3 linked regions of the Homo sapiens genome follow. The protein of the gene in region 2 interacts with the protein of the main gene of each other region in a biochemical or structural test. Each region holds a gene or a part of one and is shown on either strand. Other genes may lie near its edges. The genes, in order: ING4, NOLC1 and COIL.

Region 1 (3,692 bases), on a different chromosome or scaffold from region 2:
CGGACCTCAGGTGATCCACCCACCTCAACCTCCCAGAGTGCTGGGATTACAGGTGTGAGCCACCGCACCCAGCCTATTTATTTTTTTGAGACGGAGTCTCACTCTATCGCCCAGGCTGGAGTGCAGTGGTACAATCTCAGCTCACTGCAACCTCTGCCTCCCAGGTTCAAGCGATTCTCCTGCCTCACCCTCTCGAGTAGCTGGGATTACAGGCACCCATGACCACGCCCAGCTAATTTTTGTATTTTTGGCCGAGACCGGGTTTCGCCATGTTGGCCAGGCTAGTCTTGAACTCCTGACCTCAGGTGATCCACCTCCCTTGGCCTCCCAAAGTGTTGGGATTACAGGCGTGAGCTACCGGGCCTGGCCTACTTTAAAAAAAATTTTAAAAAATGAAAAAAAGAAATCAGCTTGGGTGCTGTGGCTCACGCCTGTAATCCCAGCACTTTGGGAGGCCAAGGCAGGCAGATCATGAGGTCAAGAGATGGAGACCATCCTGGCCAACACGGTGAAACCCTGTCTCTACTAAAAATACAAAATTAGCTGGGCGTGGTAGCATGTGCCTGTAGTCCCAGCTACTTGTAAGACTGAGGCAGGAGAATCACTTGAACCCGGAGGCGGAGACTGCAGTGAGCCAAGATCACGCCACTGCACTCCAGCCTGGCAACAGAGTGAGACTTCGCCTCAAAGGAAAAAAAAAAAGAAGTCAAGCTAATGTATAGTATAGCAGTACGTATGTATAGCACAAATACATCATTTATTGGAAATTAAGTGAAAGATGTTTTATGGAGAAAAGATGCATGATTTACAAAGTTTTGGAGACCCCCTGGTCTGAGGCCTACCCTCCAGCACCTCTGTCTTTCCCAAGTTGAGAACTTACAAGTTCTCGGACAGAGGCACCACTCTGGTTTCATGTCGTGTCCTAATTCTGGCATGCCATCCTCTCACATTGCATCCAACCCAGAGGACGCAAAATGAATGCTCAGCATGTTTACTAAAACAGTGTCTCTACAATAAACACAGCAGGCCAACATGTATAGCTTTTATTTACCTACCCAAGTTCCTTTTACATGTGAGTTATCTGCATTCCACCTTGCCCCCTCTCCCAGGATGAATCCTCTTGGCACAGAGGAAGGGGTGCCCCTTCAACTAGGGCCAGAGCCTAGATGACCTGGTGGATCCCCCACCATGAAAAAAGCAGGAAGGGAATGGAGAAGAAAAGTGTTGATCACACCTAGCCCTCACCACAGGAGGGGGAATGAAGAGGTCTGGGGGACTGCCCCCATGCTATGCCCCAGTCCTTAAATACAAAGCAAGGAGAATGAAAAGGACCCTCCCTCTGAAATACAGCACCGACCTCAGCATGGAGGCAAAAGGACAGTGGGCAAGACCACGTCCCTCCGAAGGGAGAGGGCTGAAGGAGAGCACATACCGTTAGTGGCTGCGGCACCCCTCCCTACCAGGGTCTGATGCAGCCTCAGCACCGGGAGTGGGGAGAGGGGAGGAGAAGGGATGACAGCACTGTGCCATCCACTCCTCCCTGAACCCCTGGCCCCAGCACAGGCATTCCTCTGCCCACTAGCCCAAGTCAGGGGATGTGGAAGAAACTGTGTTGGAATCCAAGGCCCTTATCTATTTCTTCTTCCGTTCTTGGGAGCAGCGTGGGCAAAACCTGAAACAGAGAAGGGGAGAGAAAAGTGAGTGAAAGGGAGAATGCCCTTGACCACTCAACTTAGGGACCCTCCAACTCCTGCCACTTACCATTTCCCCCGAGGCTTGGTTGTCAGCCCCACACAGGCAAAATGGAACCACTCAATGGAACACTGGAAGAGGAAGAAAGAAGTAGTCAGGGGCCAGGAAGGGCCAGAGGAAGGAGAGAAAGCCCCTCCAGATTCCTTAGGAACATCCTGTCCTTTACTCCATCCTTTTGGAGAATTCTTGGAAGTCCCAAGGCCAACCAGTTCCCACCATCTTCCTTCTATTCTTTTTTTCTTTTTGAGGCAGAGTCTCACTCTGTTGCCCAGGCTGGAATGCAATGACATGATCTCAGCTCACTGCAACCCCCGCCTCCCGAGTTCAAGCTATTCTCCTGCCTCAGCCTCCCAAGCAGCTGAGATTACAGGCACAGGCTATCATGCCTGGCTAATTTTTGTATTTTTAGTGGAGACGGGGTTTCACCGTGTTGGCCAGGCCAGTCTCGAACTCCTGATCTCAAGTGATCTGCTCACCTTGGCCTCCCAAAGTGCTGGGATTACAGGCGTGAGCCACAGCGCCAGGCTTTCAGGCTTTTTTTTTTTTTTTTTTTTTGAGACAGAGTCTTGCTCTTGTCGCCCAGGTTAGAGTGTGGTGGCGTGATCTCAGCTCACTGCAACCTCTGCCTCCTAGGTTCAAGCAATTCTCCTGCCTCTCGCCTCAGCCTCCCGAGTAGCTGGGATGACAGTCGTGTGCCACTATGCTCAGCTAATTTTTGTATTTTTAGTAGAGAAGGGGTTACACTATGTTGGCCAGGCTGGTCTCAAACTCCTGACCTCACGTGATCTGCCCGCCTCAGCCTCCCAAAGTGCTGGGATTTCAGGCAAGAGCTACTACGTCCAGCCCATCTTTCTTCTATTCTGAAGTCCCAGTACTCAACTGTGGGATTTTCCCTCTTGTACCCACTCCCTTCATGCCCCTCACAACCCCCCATCCTAAGGCAAAATGTTTCTCACATCAGGGTTGTCACAGCCAATCATCTCTCCATAGGAGACCTGGTGACAAAGGCAATAGGTGGGTTCGTTGGGATCCACAGGCATATCCAACACATCAGAGGGGTGGACACTGCCAAAGGTCACTGAGGGCATCCCATACTCAGGACTTCTGCATGCCAAGAGGAAGAGAAAGTGTCATCTACAGGAAGGGAAGCTAAAGCCTGAGGCTTTCAGAGGTGGCAGGAGATCCTGGTAGGGCAAATGATTTGTGGCTTCTCCAGCAGATACCAAAATGATAAGAAGAGTTCTTGGCGCAGACATATAGAAAGCGGCAGGGGGCGGTGCAGGCTGGGAGTGGGGCACCGGGAGAGAAGAGGATGTCATCCGGCAAAGGGCTCCCTGAATCACTCACGTGCGCACGAGCTTTAACTTCTTCTGGGCAGTCTTGGGGGCTTCTTCATCCGAGTTTTTCCCTTTGGAACGAGCACGAGCAGCTTTCTTCTCCTTTTGAGTCCGGCCTTCTAGGGAAGAGGGAGAAAGCCAGAAGGCAGGGAGACAGAAAGATGGGTTAAGTCCTCTTCTCTCCCCCTTTCCAACCTGGTGCCAAACTTCCCACCAGATGAAGAGCTGACTTCTTCTCCCTTTCAGTCCTCGCCCCACCTCTCACAGCCCCGCCCCCTCCTCACTCTTTTTGCCTTTGCTGGAAGAGCTGTCATAGTCACTTGACTCAATCTGTTTCTCCTTGAGATCAGCCTCAAAACGGGCCAGGTCTGTGTCCAGCCGCCGAATGTGTTTGTCCACCTGGGTGGAAAGGAAGGAGAAAGGAGAGGTACAAAACTATCTCCAATTAAAGAAAATAGGTTAAGGCAGAGTTTATGGATCTCACAGACCCCAAACAGATCCCAACACAGTTGAAGGAGGGGTCTAAGACCCTGAGGATTAGATGGGAAGTAGGTGGGGAGCCATGAACAGGGCCATACCATCTCATAGGTCTGCATGGCAAGC
Region 2 (7,373 bases):
AGCCTCCTGAGTAGCTGGGATTATTACAGGCATGCGCCACCACGCCCAGCTAATTTTGTATTTTTAGTAGAGACGGGGTTTCTCCATGTTGGTCAGGCTGGTCTCGAACTCCCGATCTCAGATGATCCACCCGCCTCAGCCTCACAAAGTGTTGGGATTACAGGCGTTTAGCCACCACAGGCCAAGCAACCGCAGTGCCATTGCAATCCAACCTGGGCGACCAAGAGCGAAATTCCATTTCAAAAAAAAAAAAAGAGAGAGAGAGAGAGATGGAGGTCTCACTGTCTTGCCCAGGCTGGTCTTGAACTCCTGTCCTTAAGTGATCCTCCTGCCTTGGCCTGCCAAAGTGTTAGCGTACCTGCGCCCGGCCTGAATGCATTTTTTTTTTTTTTTGAGACTTACTCTGTCGCCCAGGCTGGAGTACAATGGTGTGATACTGGCTCACTGCAACCTCAGCCTCCTGGGTTAAAGCGATTCTCCTGCCTCAGCCTCCTGAGTAGCTGGGATTACAGGTGTGCACCACCATGCCCAGTTAATTTTTTGTGTTTCTGGTAGAAATGGGGTTTCACCATGTTGGCCAGGCTGGTCTCAAACTCCTGACATCATGATCTGCCTACCTCGACCTCCCATAGTGCTGGGATTACAGCAGACCTGAGCCACCGTGCCTGGCCCTTAAATGCAGTTCTTTACATTCAATACAGTACTTACTAGTCTTGTTTCTTTCTTTTTTTTTTTGAGACAGAGTCTTGGTCTGTCGCACAGGCTGGAGTGCAGTGGCGCGATCTCAGCTTACTGCACCCTCCGCCTCTGGGGTTCAAACGATTCTTCTGCCTCAGCCTCCCGAGTACCTGGGATTACAGGCGCCTGCCACCACACCCGGCTAAGAGACAGGGTTTCTCCATGTTGGCCAGGCTGGTCTTGAACTCCTGGCCTCAGGCGATCTGCCCGCCTTGGCCTCCCAGAGTGTTGGGATTATAGGCGTGAGCCACTGCATCCCGCCTGGAGGCTTATTTCTAATGATTTGGTATTATAATCCACATTGCAGGAAAAACCTTCTTGTATTAGTGTTTGTACCCTCAAGTAATGGATAAGATTACATTCTTAGATAGTACATTGCTAGAGTAAAGAGAGAGCCTTTTTTTTGGCAGAGGGGTAGAGATGGGGGTCTTGCTATGTTGCTTAGGCTGGTCTTGAACTCCTGGCATCCAGTGATCCTCCTGTCTCAGCTTCCCAAAGTGCTGAGATAACATGAGATAACAGGCATAAGCCACTGTGCCCAGTCAAAAGTGATTTTTTTTTTTTTTTGAAATGGAGTCTTGCTCTTGTTGCTCAGGCTGGAGTGCAGTGGCGCGATCTCCTAGGTTCAAGTGATTCTCCTGCTTCAGCCTTCTAGGTTCAAGCAATTCTCCTGCTTCAGCCTCCCAAGTAGCTGGGACTACAGACATCTGCCATCATGCTGGGCTAATTTTTGTTTTAGTAGAGATGGGGTTTCACCATGTTGGCCAGGCTGGTCTTGAACTCCTGACCTCTTGATCTGCCTGCCTCGGCCTCCCAAAGTGCTGGGATTACAAGCATGAGCCACCGTGACTGGCTGATTTTTTGTTTTGTTTTGTTTTAGGACTTTGATCAATATAGATTGGCAGGCAGGGGGTTAGATGGTTAGATGGTGCCGCAAACATAGGAGTAGCCCGTTTTTTACATCAGAAATTGGGAAATCCACAAATAGAATATTTTTCTCCTGATTTATGCACGTAGCAAAAGTTTTATGAAGATGTAACATTTATACCAAATTTAGTAATTATGTATGTAACAGGCCACATTTAATGAAAGCATAACCAGGATAAAATAATTTCCTTACCCAGCTCTTTTTCTTCTACAGACACAGCAGGATGCCAATGCCTCTTCCCTCTTAGACATCTATAGCTTCTGGCTCAAGTAAGCCTTTCCTGTTCCATTTTGGCTATTTTCTCCCCCAAGATAGGCTGGGCTGTGTTTCTTGGTTTGGGAAGATTCCAGTCCCCTAGAAATTGGTCCAATCTACCTCAGCAGGTCTGCCAAGGTCCCAGAGCGAAAGTTACAGGCAAATGGACCAGTGGCTAAGAAAGCTAAGAAGAAGGCCTCATCCAGTGACAGTGAGGACAGCAGCGAGGAGGAGGAGGAAGTTCAAGGGCCTCCAGCAAAGAAGGCTGGTAAGGCAGAGTAGCAGGTGGGCTTGGTGGTGCCAGGAAAAGAATTTACAGCCTGCTTGTTTCACATGGCTGATTCTTACTGGGACCTGTGTGTTTGTTCAGCTGTACCTGCCAAGCGAGTCGGTCTGCCTCCTGGGAAGGCTGCAGCCAAAGCATCAGAGAGTAGCAGCAGTGAAGAGTCCAGTGATGATGATGATGAGGAGGACCAAAAGAAACAGCCTGTCCAGGTTTGCAGCTTTGGGAAGAAAAAGGGGTTTAAGGATTAGAAAGGAAGAAACCTAAAATCTTGGCCTCTAGCTTGTAACCAAGGGGTGATGGCGGCAATACAATAGGTGATTATGAGGAAGAAAATCTGGGGATTTTCAGGGAGCTGATAAAAGTATGAGGTCTGGAAGGGATGTGTGAGGTTGAGGTCAGGCTCCGAATCTAGAGGAAATTAAACCCATTCTGCTTGAGGAGTTTGGGTTCTTCTGGGACACTATTCAGGGCTCCAAGAATAAGAGAGAGTGTTTTCCTGGGAGCTTTGGCAGGATAAGGCAGGAACAGGGCCAGTGTATCAAGTGGCTGAACTTTGTTGTTTTTTGCCCTTTCCGTATCCTGTCCTTAGCTTTCTTTTGCTCTTACTGCTCCATTAGGCCCCTAAAAATAAAAGGAACCTAGGATGCCCTTTGGGTACCCGGAAGCTTTTGCTGATTTCTCTCCTTGTGTCTTTTCTAACAGAAGGGAGTTAAGCCCCAAGCCAAGGCAGCCAAAGCTCCTCCTAAGAAGGCCAAGAGCTCTGATTCTGATTCTGACTCAAGCTCCGAGGATGAGCCACCAAAGAACCAGAAGCCAAAGATAACACCTGTGACAGTTAAAGCTCAGACTAAAGCCCCTCCCAAACCAGGTACTGTTTCTGTTCCCAAGAGGCTGGGCTGGGGACCAGATTGCTCTGGGGACTGGAGTTAAAATTGCCGATTTGGCACAGGGGTGAAATGGTACTGTTTGTTGAACTGGAGGTGTTGATTACTGGTCTTTTAATTTTAAAGGTTTTACTAATAAATAACAAGATTTCATAGGAGCTAGTAAATAGAGAAAGTTATTGCAGCAAGAAAAAATGTGTATTTTTTTTAATGGTATCCATTTGGTATTTTGTGACATTTCATAGACATTTTATGTTTTCACACATCCCATTCCACTGTAATCACTTAAATATCTATTTGTTGTGCTTTTCACTGCCATTTTTACTCTTGTATGTTCATTCTATGAGACAAATGAGAATTTTTCTTTTTTTCTGTAACTTGTGATGAGGGTTAGGTTATTTCTCTGAATGGAGGTTGAAGTGAAAGATTTTAGAGGGCGTATTGAGATTATTTATGTCATCTTTTCTAAGAAGACAGTTTTATTCCTGCCATGGGATAGGAAAGGTATCCTTTGATGTGGTAAACCATGGCTGGCATTCTCCTCGATGGCTGCTCTAAAGTTGAAAGAATTGGTGGACTCCTGGCCAGGCACAGTGGCTCACACCTATAATCCCAGCACTTTGGGAGGCTGAGGCGGGCGGATTGCTTGAGGTCAGGAGTTCAAGACCAGCCTGGCCAACATGGCGAAACCCTGTGTCTACTAAAAATATAAAAATTAGCTGGGCATGGTGGTGGGCACCTGTAATCCCAGCTACTCCAGAGGCTGAGGCGGGAGAGTTGCCTGAACCACTGCACACTAGCCTGTGCAACAGAGCCAGAGCCAGACTCCGTCTCCAAAAAAAAAAAAAAAAAAAAAAAAAAAAATGGTGGACTCCTAAGTTCTCTGCTCATAGGAAGGAGGTTTTTCATGGTCCTGACTTGCCCTAATACTCCTTACTCTTTCTTTTTCTTGGGTATTCCAGCTCGAGCAGCACCTAAAATAGCCAATGGTAAAGCAGCCAGTAGCAGCAGTAGCAGCAGCAGCAGCAGTAGCAGTGATGACTCAGAGGAGGAGAAGGCAGCAGCCACCCCCAAGAAGGTCTGGACCATAACTTCTGTCAGGGCAGAGGTGACCAGGGTGTGATGTGTGTGTGTCTTCCTTCCCTGGCAGGATTGGTTGGGTCAGCATTTTCCTGTGGTAATCAATTTTCTTTCTAATGCAGACTGTACCTAAAAAGCAAGTTGTGGCCAAGGCCCCAGTGAAAGCAGCTACCACCCCTACCCGGAAGAGTTCTAGCAGTGAGGATTCCTCCAGTGACGAGGAAGAGGAGCAAAAAAAACCCATGAAAAATAAACCAGGTGACTGGACATGGGGAGCGAAGCTGTGTGACTGTGGTCAGGGCCCAGCTGCAGTAACCACATGGACCTCTCCATAGAGGTGCATGAGCGTCCTCATGACATGACAGCTAGCTTCTCCGAGCACTAGTGATCCAGGAAAGCAAGGAGAAATCTCCAGTGCCTTGTGTAACCTAGACTCAGAGGTGACACCATGTTCTGTTAGAACTGAGTCATTGATTCTGGCCCATACTCAAGTGAAGGGGAATTAAGCTTCATTTCTACAAGAAAGTAGTATCAAAAAAAGTTGTAGACATATCCTAAAACCATCACACTATCCTTTTTAAACAGGTCCCTACAGTTCAGTCCCCCCGCCTTCTGCTCCCCCACCAAAGAAGTCTCTGGGAACCCAGCCTCCCAAGAAGGCTGTGGAGAAGCAGCAGCCTGTGGAAAGCAGTGAAGACAGCAGTGATGAGTCTGGTGAGTCAGAGGGATGCAGCCTCCCCTCAGCGTGGGTCTGGAGGAGGGGATGAGGAATAAGGGAGAGAGAAAGCCTTCCATCCTTCGGTTGCTTTTTGCTTAAAGCAAGACAGAGCTAAGGCTCTGTGCGTGTCTTTGCATTCTTTTTATTGCTGTCCTGGTTGGGTTGGGACTCTGGACCCAGCATAATGCTACAGGTTCTCCTCAGATTCAAGTTCTGAAGAAGAGAAGAAACCCCCAACTAAGGCAGTAGTCTCTAAAGCAACCACTAAACCACCTCCAGCAAAGAAAGCAGCAGAGAGCTCTTCAGACAGCTCAGGTAAGGCATATGGAGGCCCTCAGTTCAGTGAGATGCTCTCAGGCAGCTGCTAAGGGCTCCCCTGAATCCAATTTGGGGAGCTGTTGATTCCATCCCTTCTGTGTCTAGACTCTGACAGCTCTGAGGATGATGAAGCTCCTTCTAAGCCAGCTGGTACCACCAAGAATTCTTCAAATAAGCCAGCTGTCACCACCAAGTCACCTGCAGTGAAGCCAGCTGCAGCCCCCAAGCAACCTGTGGGCGGTGGCCAGAAGCTTCTGACGAGAAAGGCTGACAGCAGCTCCAGTGAGGAAGAGAGCAGCTCCAGTGAGGAGGAGAAGACAAAGAAGATGGTGGCCACCACTAAGCCCAAGGCGACTGCCAAAGCAGCTCTATCTCTGCCTGCCAAGCAGGCTCCTCAGGGTAGTAGGGACAGCAGCTCTGATTCAGACAGCTCCAGCAGTGAGGAGGAGGAAGAGAAGACATCTAAGTCTGCAGTTAAGAAGAAGCCACAGAAGGTAGCAGGAGGTGCAGCCCCTTCCAAGCCAGCCTCTGCAAAGAAAGGAAAGGCTGAGAGCAGCAACAGTTCTTCTTCTGATGACTCCAGTGAGGAAGAGGAAGAGAAGCTCAAGGGCAAGGGCTCTCCAAGACCACAAGCCCCCAAGGCCAATGGCACCTCTGCACTGACTGCCCAGAATGGAAAAGCAGCTAAGAACAGTGAGGAGGAGGAAGAAGAAAAGAAAAAGGCGGCAGTGGTAGTTTCCAAATCAGGTCTGTACCCAATGAACATGCCCTCTGGGTTTTGTCCCCCCAAATCAGGATGGGATATACTCTTTGAGAGTAGGGTAGTGAGAGGAGGCCCACCACTGGGCTTCCAGTTGTGGAAACTGGGAGGAAGAACAGGAAACTGGTTACCTTTTTTTTTTTTTATTAGAGTCTCACTGTGTCACCCAGACCAGGGTGCAATGGCATGATCACGGCTTGTGCAGCCTTAACCTCATGGACTCAGGTGATCTTTCCACCCCAGCCTCCTGAGTAGCCGGGACTACAAGCATGCACCACCATGTCTGGCTCATTTTTTTAACTTTTTATAGAGACAGAATCTCACTATATTGCCCAGGCTGATCTGAATTTCCTGGGCTCAAGCGATCCTCCTACCTTGGACTCCCAAAATGCTGGGGTTACAGTTGTGAGCCACTGTACTCGGCCTGAGTCTGGCTTTTTGTTTTGTAGGTTCATTAAAGAAGCGGAAGCAGAATGAGGCTGCCAAGGAGGCAGAGACTCCTCAGGCCAAGAAGATAAAGCTTCAGACCCCTAACACATTTCCAAAAAGGAAGAAAGTAAGTTGTCTCACTTTCTTCTCAGGAGCCAGCTCTTTAAAAGTAGAAAAATCTAGGATCATCTTGACAGCTCTGCCTGGCGTGACCTGGTACATGTGCCCATGTGTATCACTCAGGAGAACTGTTACATGACCACTCTGTCTTTAATTTCCTACTTCATTCTTCTGTAGGGAGAAAAAAGGGCATCATCCCCATTCCGAAGGGTCAGGGAGGAGGAAATTGAGGTGGATTCACGAGTTGCGGACAACTCCTTTGATGCCAAGGTGAGAGAGAGATCTGTGCCATTCTTGGGAGGGAGGATGGGTAGTGTCAGAGAGGACAATTCTTGGTTCAGGTTGGTGGGAATCTTCTCTGGGTTCAGGTTTCCTTGAGCAGGGAGTAGAAAGAATAAAGTGACAGGGCTCCAGCATGGTCCTCCTCTGTGTTAATCTCCCTCTCTACTTACCAGCGAGGTGCAGCCGGAGACTGGGGAGAGCGAGCCAATCAGGTTTTGAAGTTCACCAAAGGCAAGTCCTTTCGGCATGAGAAAACCAAGAAGAAGCGGGGCAGCTACCGGGGAGGCTCAATCTCTGTCCAGGTCAATTCTATTAAGTTTGACAGCGAGTGACCTGAGGCCATCTTCGGTGAAGCAAGGGTGATGATCGGAGACTACTTACTTTCTCCAGTGGACCTGGGAACCCTCAGGTCTCTAGGTGAGGGTCTTGATGAGGACAGAAGTTTAGAGTAGGTCCTAAGACTTTACAGTGTAACATCCTCTCTGGTCCTTTTCTGTGTTCCTAGTTTTGTACAGACTTGTTTTTGAGTGTTGAGTAGCAGGGACAAAATAAGGGAATGTTATTTTTTAAGAAAA
Region 3 (6,725 bases), on a different chromosome or scaffold from region 2:
TGGTCCCCCTAAATTGACTTCATAATCCTTCTTGGGGACTCTATTCATAGTCTGACAAACACAACAGAGGAAAGGAGTGACTCATAAACTGATAATAATCTGAGAAAAACACACCCTGAGGTCAAAATTTTCCTTTGGTCAATGTTCACTAGTTATCTTAATTTGTTTTCCAAACCCTGGAAGGCAACTGTGCTACACAGAACCCCAGTGCCAAGATCCCACCGTTCACATTACTCTCATCCTTTCGGGAGTAATACTTCTCATTACAAATCAATAAATGCACATTTTGAAACACATTCATGTCATGCAAAGTAAAACTGGCCAGCATCTCCACTGGCACAGTGGCTCCCAGATCAGATGAACTCCACTGAACCAAACTTTGCAACATCAGACTCATCAGTCAAAGCAAACCTTCTTATTACAGAAAATTGTAATCTCTCACGTTATTGTAAAATAAGACAATAATTTGCAATACTCAACATGATAACTCGGTAGAGATGTTTAGTTCAATATGATTTTATTTAAAAATGTGTACAGCTGAAGGAGGGATCTGATCTTTTGTTAAATGAAACCAATTTTCACGGTATATATTTGGCCATTTTAGCTTCGTAGTGAATAATAACAGAAAAGGAAGTTTCTGTTCAAGATCCTCACTCCAGCACACTCAGCCAGGTGCCTGGCAAGATGACACATTTCCTGGTCTGAAGCTCACAGCCAATCCTCTCACTGAAGTGAAACACCAATTCTCCAGGCATACACACACATACGCACATCTTATTTTCACTGCTCTACACAGGGACCTGAGAATCCTTAATTTTAAAGTTGGGAAAAACGTGAAAGGATTCCTTAACTCATTGTCTGCGACAAATCCAACTACCTGTTAACTCTTAACAATTGCAAGTATAAAATACTTGAAATTTACAAGATGCTCCATTTAATGGAACAACTCAAATGCTAAAAAATTAGGTCAAATAACATGCTTTAATATTTTTAAATGTTACTTAAAACTTATTGAGACAAGATACGCAGCACATTCTTGGTATTATAAACTCCTACTGACGACTGCTACTTGATGGCCAAAAACATTTAAAGAAAGAGAAGAAACCATACTGGTATACAACAATATCTGCAGGGAATGTCATGTTTTACATTTTGTTAACTGAAATTAAACCTGACAAAAAAACCAAAGATCTACAAAACCGACACCCATGTCATTTTAAATGATGAGGTAGATTGTTTCCTATGCAGTAAAGTGAAGATAACAAAAAAATCCATACAACTTCCAAATCCTCTTTAAAAAAAAAAAAAAGTTTGGGTTATAGTCACTTTCACAAACAAGACATTCATAAACTATAAGGTGGAGAGGTCATACTCAGGCAGGTTCTGTACTTGATGTGTTACTTGGAGATTCAATAATCAGTCTTGGGTCAATCAACTCTTTCCAAAATACAGTGATCTGAGGAAAAAGACAAAATACCCAGTTTAGGCACTTCATTTTGAGGTCATACCGGTTAATTCAGCCACGTAAATTTTCCGTCTGTGTAGAATGATTGAAGAACGGGAATAATTTGGGTTCCAATAAACTGAGTTCAATTGCAGTATAGTAACTCTTTAGGCCAGGCGCTGTGGCTCACACCTGTAATCCCAGCAATTTGGAAGGCCGAGGGGGAGAAATGCTTGAGCCCAGGAGTTCAAGATCAGCCTGGGAAACCTAGTGAGACCCCATCTCTATTATTTTTTTTAATTAAAAAACAAAACAAAAAAAAAGAGGCCAGGCATGGTAGCTCACGCCTATAATCCTAGCACTCTGGGAGGCCAAGGCAGTCGGATCATCTAAAGTCAGGAGTTCAAGACCAGCCTGGCCAACCTGTGTCTCTGCAAAAATACAAAAATTAGCCGGGCATGGTGACGCATGCCTGTAGTCCCAGCTACTCGGAAGGCTGAGTCAGGAGAATCGCTTGAACCCAGTAGGTGGAGGTTGCAGTGAGCGGAGATCGCGCCACTGCACTCCAGCCTGGGTGACAGAGTGAAACTCTGTGCTGGGAAAATAAATAAATAAATAAATAAATAACTCATTTACTTAGAATGAAGCTAAATTTTACATTAAACATATTTCATCTTTCTTTGATTAAGAGCAGGAGATGCAGGGGTTGCGGGAGGGAGTAGCTCCCCCAACCCCTGCATTTGATTTGCCCTGTGGACAGGTGGCCTGGAGACCTTCTGGCAACTAGACATGGTCCAGATGGGTATCATTAGGCTGCTGATGCCCTTTTGCGCCGCTCTGTAGTTCTTATCCTACACTACCTAAAAACAGGAACTATTTCACAGCCCACCAAGAGAAAAACTCTAAGGCTTGGTCCTATGAATGAATAATGAGGGCCATCTAGTGTCAAAAAAGGTAATTACAGGCTTTTTGTTTTTGAGATAGGGTATCACGTCTATAGTCCAGGCTGGAATGCAGTGGCATTCAGGACTCACTGCACCTTCCACCTCCTGGGCTCAAGCGATCCTCCTGCCTCGCCCCCACCACCCCCAAAGGTGGCTGGGACTACAGGCATGTGTCACCACTCCCGGTTAATTTTTGTATTTTTTTGTAGAGACGGGGTCTCGCCATGTTGCCCAGGCTGGTCTTGAACTCCTGGACTCAAGGGATCGGCCCGCCTCAGCCTCCCAAAGTGCTGTGATTACAGGCATGAGCCACGGTGCCCAGCCTAATTACAGGCTTTCTATTCTACTTCAAGTCTCTGTTTAGGGCATAGAGAGAAAAGCCTCCAAGGTTTAATTTTCCAATGCGGTTTCCAATTTCAACCAAAAAAAACTATTGCAAATAAAGAAATACAGGAGACCAGGCCAAATCTGCTGATCCTACCACAAACACTAAAAATGTGTTTCTGGAATAAATCCCTAAAAGTGTCATCTACCTTAAAGACAAGGTAAAACACAGTCTGGCTAGGGTTTCTACAAGTTCACACTTCAGAAAAAATATGTTTGCAATATTGAAACTTACAGAATAATATCTATAACATTTCAAGTATAAACACCTTAAAAGAGAGCATTTTCTTAAATCTAACTTCCATTTAATGCCACCATAACCTAATGAGCTAGCCACTGCCAGCAACTCTGGTAGGTCTGGCTGCTTAAAAAGGTATAAATCGGCCGGGCGCGGTGGCTCACACGTGTAATCCTAGCACTTTGGGAGGCCGAGGCGTGCAGATCACGAGGTCAGGAGATTGAGACCATCGTGGCCAACGCGGGGAAACCCTGTCTCTAGTTAAAAAAATACAAAAAATTAGCCAGGCGTGGTGGCAGGCGCCTGTAATCCCAGCTACTCGGGAGGCTGAGGCAAGAGAATGGTGTGAACCCGGGAGGCGGAGCTTGCAGTGAGCGGAGATCACGCCACTGCACTCCAGCCTGGGTGACAGAGCTAGACTCTGTCTCAAAAAAAAAAAAAAAAAAAAAAGGTATAAACCATATACTTCCCAAAATGGCAATTTAAGGATTTAAAGAAAGTCAGAGGATGAGATCATCATTTTATGTCACTCTTCAAACTGTTGTGCTATTATAAGTTGGAACTCTCGGGCCAGGCATGGTGGCTCACCCAGGCACGGTGGCCTGTAATCCAACACTTTGGGAGGCCTAAGTGGGCAGATCACTTGAGGTCAGCAGTTCAAGACCAGCCTGGCCAACATGGTAAAACCCCGTCTCTACCAAAAATATAAAAATTAGCTGGGTGAGGTGGCAAGCGCCTGTAATTCTAGCTACTCCAGAGGCTGAGGCATGAGAATCGCTCGAACCTGAGAGGTGGAGGTTGCAGTGAGCCAAGATCATGCCACTGCATTTCAGCCTGGGCAACACAGTGAGACTCTCTCAAAAAAACAAAAGTTGGAACTGTGGTAACACTTGGGGGATAGTGGTGACAGCAAGGGGACATAATAGAGGCTTCTGGGAGTGGGTGTTATGTTCTATTTCCTGATCTGGGTCTGGTTACATGGGTATGTTCATGTGAAAGTTGTTCAAGCCATGTAGTTATATGCACTTCTCTGAACGTGTATGCCAATAAAGTTTCTAAATATGCTACCCTTTCCTACTGGAATCCTTATATAGCTATAATTTTAAACAACTGTACACTCTTAAAGAAAAGTTTGTTATTTGTGCATCTTGTCACATAGGCTCTATGAGGGCCAAGATGGCGCCCTGATTTGGCACTGGTATTGCCACACCATAAGAAGGTCAGATTCCCCCCAGGGCCTGTAGTGCAATGTCACCTTCCAAACCACAGGTAATTGGTCAAGAGAGAACGAATGGCCAAGCAACGCAAGAAGAGAAGCACACCTACCTTGCTCTCCTGTGTCACAGCGTACTCCACTACCTCGGCTCCATTTTCATTGTGATAAACTAAATCAAATTTCCCAGGTTCTCTCAAGGCTGAAACAAGAAGATAGGGAGGAAAGAGAGTAAGTCATTTTTCAATAGTTAAAAATGTTCCTCTATGGGGAATTTATATCATTAAGAAAACAACCACAAACAAACTGTCAATTAATGTGAAGGCTGGGTATGTACAGGAAAGCACAGGGTGCTCAATACTGGGGGATCCTGAGAAAAACTCTGGACCAGGGGGACTTCTCAGCCATTTATCAGAGAAAATCTTTCCTTCATAAGCTTGATGAACTGTCATTAGTACTACCAGAATTGAATATGGCACCACAAGATAATCCCCAAAATTAATTAATTTATGTGTTTCAACAAGGGAAGGTAATATGAAATGCTGCTCTGTCCTTAGAAATCACATATGCTTCCTACTACTTGGTAACACAGGCAGTCCCCCTTTTTTTTTTAAGACAGAGTCCTGCTTTATCGCCCAGGCTGTAGTGTAGTGGCGCAATCTCGACTCACTACAACCTCTACCTCCTGGGTTCAAGTGATTCTTGTGCCTCAGCCTCCTGAGTAGCTGGGATTACAGGCATGCACCACTATGCCCAGCTAATTTTTGTATTTTTAGTTGAGACAGGGTTTCACCATGTTGGCCAGGTTGGTCTCAAACTTCTGGCCTCAAGTGATCTGCCCGCCTCGGCCTCCCAAAGCGCTGGGATTACAGGCGTGAGCCACCACACCCGGCCTCAGTCCTTGCTTTCTATGGTAAAATGGGATTGGAAAAATGACTGTGCAAGCTGAAACCACGCAAAACAATCTTAATAATCAATAGGAAAAATTATTATCGTCTTACGAGTTTTAAAAAATTTTGCCAAAACATTAAAAACCTTTACTACATAGGGAAATTAAAAAATAGTAAAATAAATATATTGTACTTATGAGTACACTGTAATTACATTAGGAACACTAAGAACTAACTTTCTTTTTCTCTTTCCTTCTACACGTTTTATTTCTTTGTAAGAAACTTATCAGGGGGAGTTTGAACAGTGCTTGTGTTCTTGCCCTGTAACTTACAATACAGAGCAAGCATCTTCTCTATGCTTTGTGCAACTGTTATACTCTTTTCTAAGTTTGAAACTGCTTTCTACATTTTATCCTTTGAACTTCTAATGTCGTGAAATAGCTCAAAGAATTTGTTTTTTACTTTGTAAAATCTTTGTTTTTGCTGGTGTCACTTTGGGGACATTTTCATCCTTTTTGCCACAACCACTTTCCTCATTTATGTCAATAAGTTCACCTCACTGGCAGTGTCAACATTCCTACAGTGAGCTATTTCTTCTACAGACTCTCCTTAAACTCAGTTTGGATGGCACTTTCAGCATTACCACTTTTGTTTCTTTGCTGTGCCTTTATCTTTGTGGGCCAATTCCCTACTTCGATTATACGTGTTGTAAAATGTCATGCAGGTTTATAAGTGAGAGACAAGGAGGCACCACAACTGCATGCTCTGCTCTGTATGTGAACTGAATAACAGATGCACAGTGACCAGTCACTGACGGACTCTGAAAGTACTGACTTGACTGGTAATGGATCATGACGCGTATCTGTTATTTATGTTATATAGTGATATGTGGACTAAAGAGCTAGCAGTACTTCATGCACTTACAGTTAACATATGCAATGTTGCTGGGGGACTAGTATTACTTAACTAAACCAGGGTAACTGAAATATATGTATATCAGAACCACCACATCAAGGACAAGTGACATTGCTATTAGAGAACAGATAAATCCATTTCTTTCTTTCTTTTTTGCTTTTGAGACAGGGTCTTGCTCACTCAGCCTGGAGTGCAGTGACGCAATCATGACTCACTGCAGCCTCGACCTCCTGGGCTCAAGTGATCCTCCCACCTCAGCCTCTCAAGTAGCGAGGACTACAAGCATGTACCACCACACTCAGCTATGTTTTGTTTTTTTTTTTTACGACAGAGTCTCACTATGCTGCCCAGGCTGGTCTTGAACTCCTGGGCTCAAGTGATCCTCCCACCTTCGCCCCCGAAGCCATTTCTTGATGCCCTAAAGAAGAAAAGTTCTAAGTGGATGTCATCACTATTAATCACCTGACAAGCACTGATCAGGCTGTATGCACAGAATTTGACAGTGGACAAACTTTTCTGTCCACCGTTCCTAAGAAAGGGGATTTCTATAAATGAAATCTCATCAGAAGAAAGGTTGGAAACCTGGCCAGGCACGGTGGCTCATGCCTGTAATCCCAGCACTTTGGGAGGCTGAGGTGGGAGGATCACGAGGTCAGGAGATCGAGACCGTCCTGGCTAACACAGTGAAACCCCATCT

Evidence for each region.
Region 1: the proteins of NOLC1 (region 2) and ING4 form a complex in vitro, tested with the Homo sapiens proteins (one study listed by BioGRID).
Region 3: the proteins of NOLC1 (region 2) and COIL form a complex in vitro, tested with the Homo sapiens proteins (one study listed by BioGRID).

What each region holds. Positions count from the first base shown.
Region 1 is NC_000012.12:6,649,563-6,653,254, forward strand, and holds the end of ING4 (inhibitor of growth protein 4), read right to left. Parts: coding exon 3,668-3,692; intron 3,489-3,667; coding exon 3,374-3,488; intron 3,209-3,373; coding exon of another isoform or gene 3,206-3,208; coding exon 3,100-3,205; intron 2,857-3,099; coding exon 2,709-2,856; intron 1,824-2,708; coding exon 1,762-1,823; intron 1,673-1,761; coding exon 1,633-1,672; 3' UTR 739-1,632; downstream 1-738.
Region 2 is NC_000010.11:102,155,140-102,162,512, forward strand, and holds part of NOLC1 (nucleolar and coiled-body phosphoprotein 1), read left to right. Parts: intron 1-1,879; coding exon 1,880-1,935; intron 1,936-2,046; coding exon of another isoform or gene 2,047-2,049; coding exon 2,050-2,189; intron 2,190-2,291; coding exon 2,292-2,416; intron 2,417-2,909; coding exon 2,910-3,075; intron 3,076-4,053; coding exon 4,054-4,169; coding exon of another isoform or gene 4,170-4,199; intron 4,200-4,293; coding exon 4,294-4,429; intron 4,430-4,756; coding exon 4,757-4,885; intron 4,886-5,093; coding exon 5,094-5,204; intron 5,205-5,312; coding exon 5,313-5,954; intron 5,955-6,416; coding exon 6,417-6,523; intron 6,524-6,693; coding exon 6,694-6,786; intron 6,787-6,971; coding exon 6,972-7,130; 3' UTR 7,131-7,373. UniProt on the Homo sapiens protein: Nucleolar protein that acts as a regulator of RNA polymerase I by connecting RNA polymerase I with enzymes responsible for ribosomal processing and modification.
Region 3 is NC_000017.11:56,937,699-56,944,423, forward strand, and holds the end of COIL (coilin), read right to left. Parts: intron 4,426-6,725; coding exon 4,337-4,425; intron 1,457-4,336; coding exon 1,373-1,456; 3' UTR 501-1,372; downstream 1-500. UniProt on the Homo sapiens protein: Component of nuclear coiled bodies, also known as Cajal bodies or CBs, which are involved in the modification and assembly of nucleoplasmic snRNPs.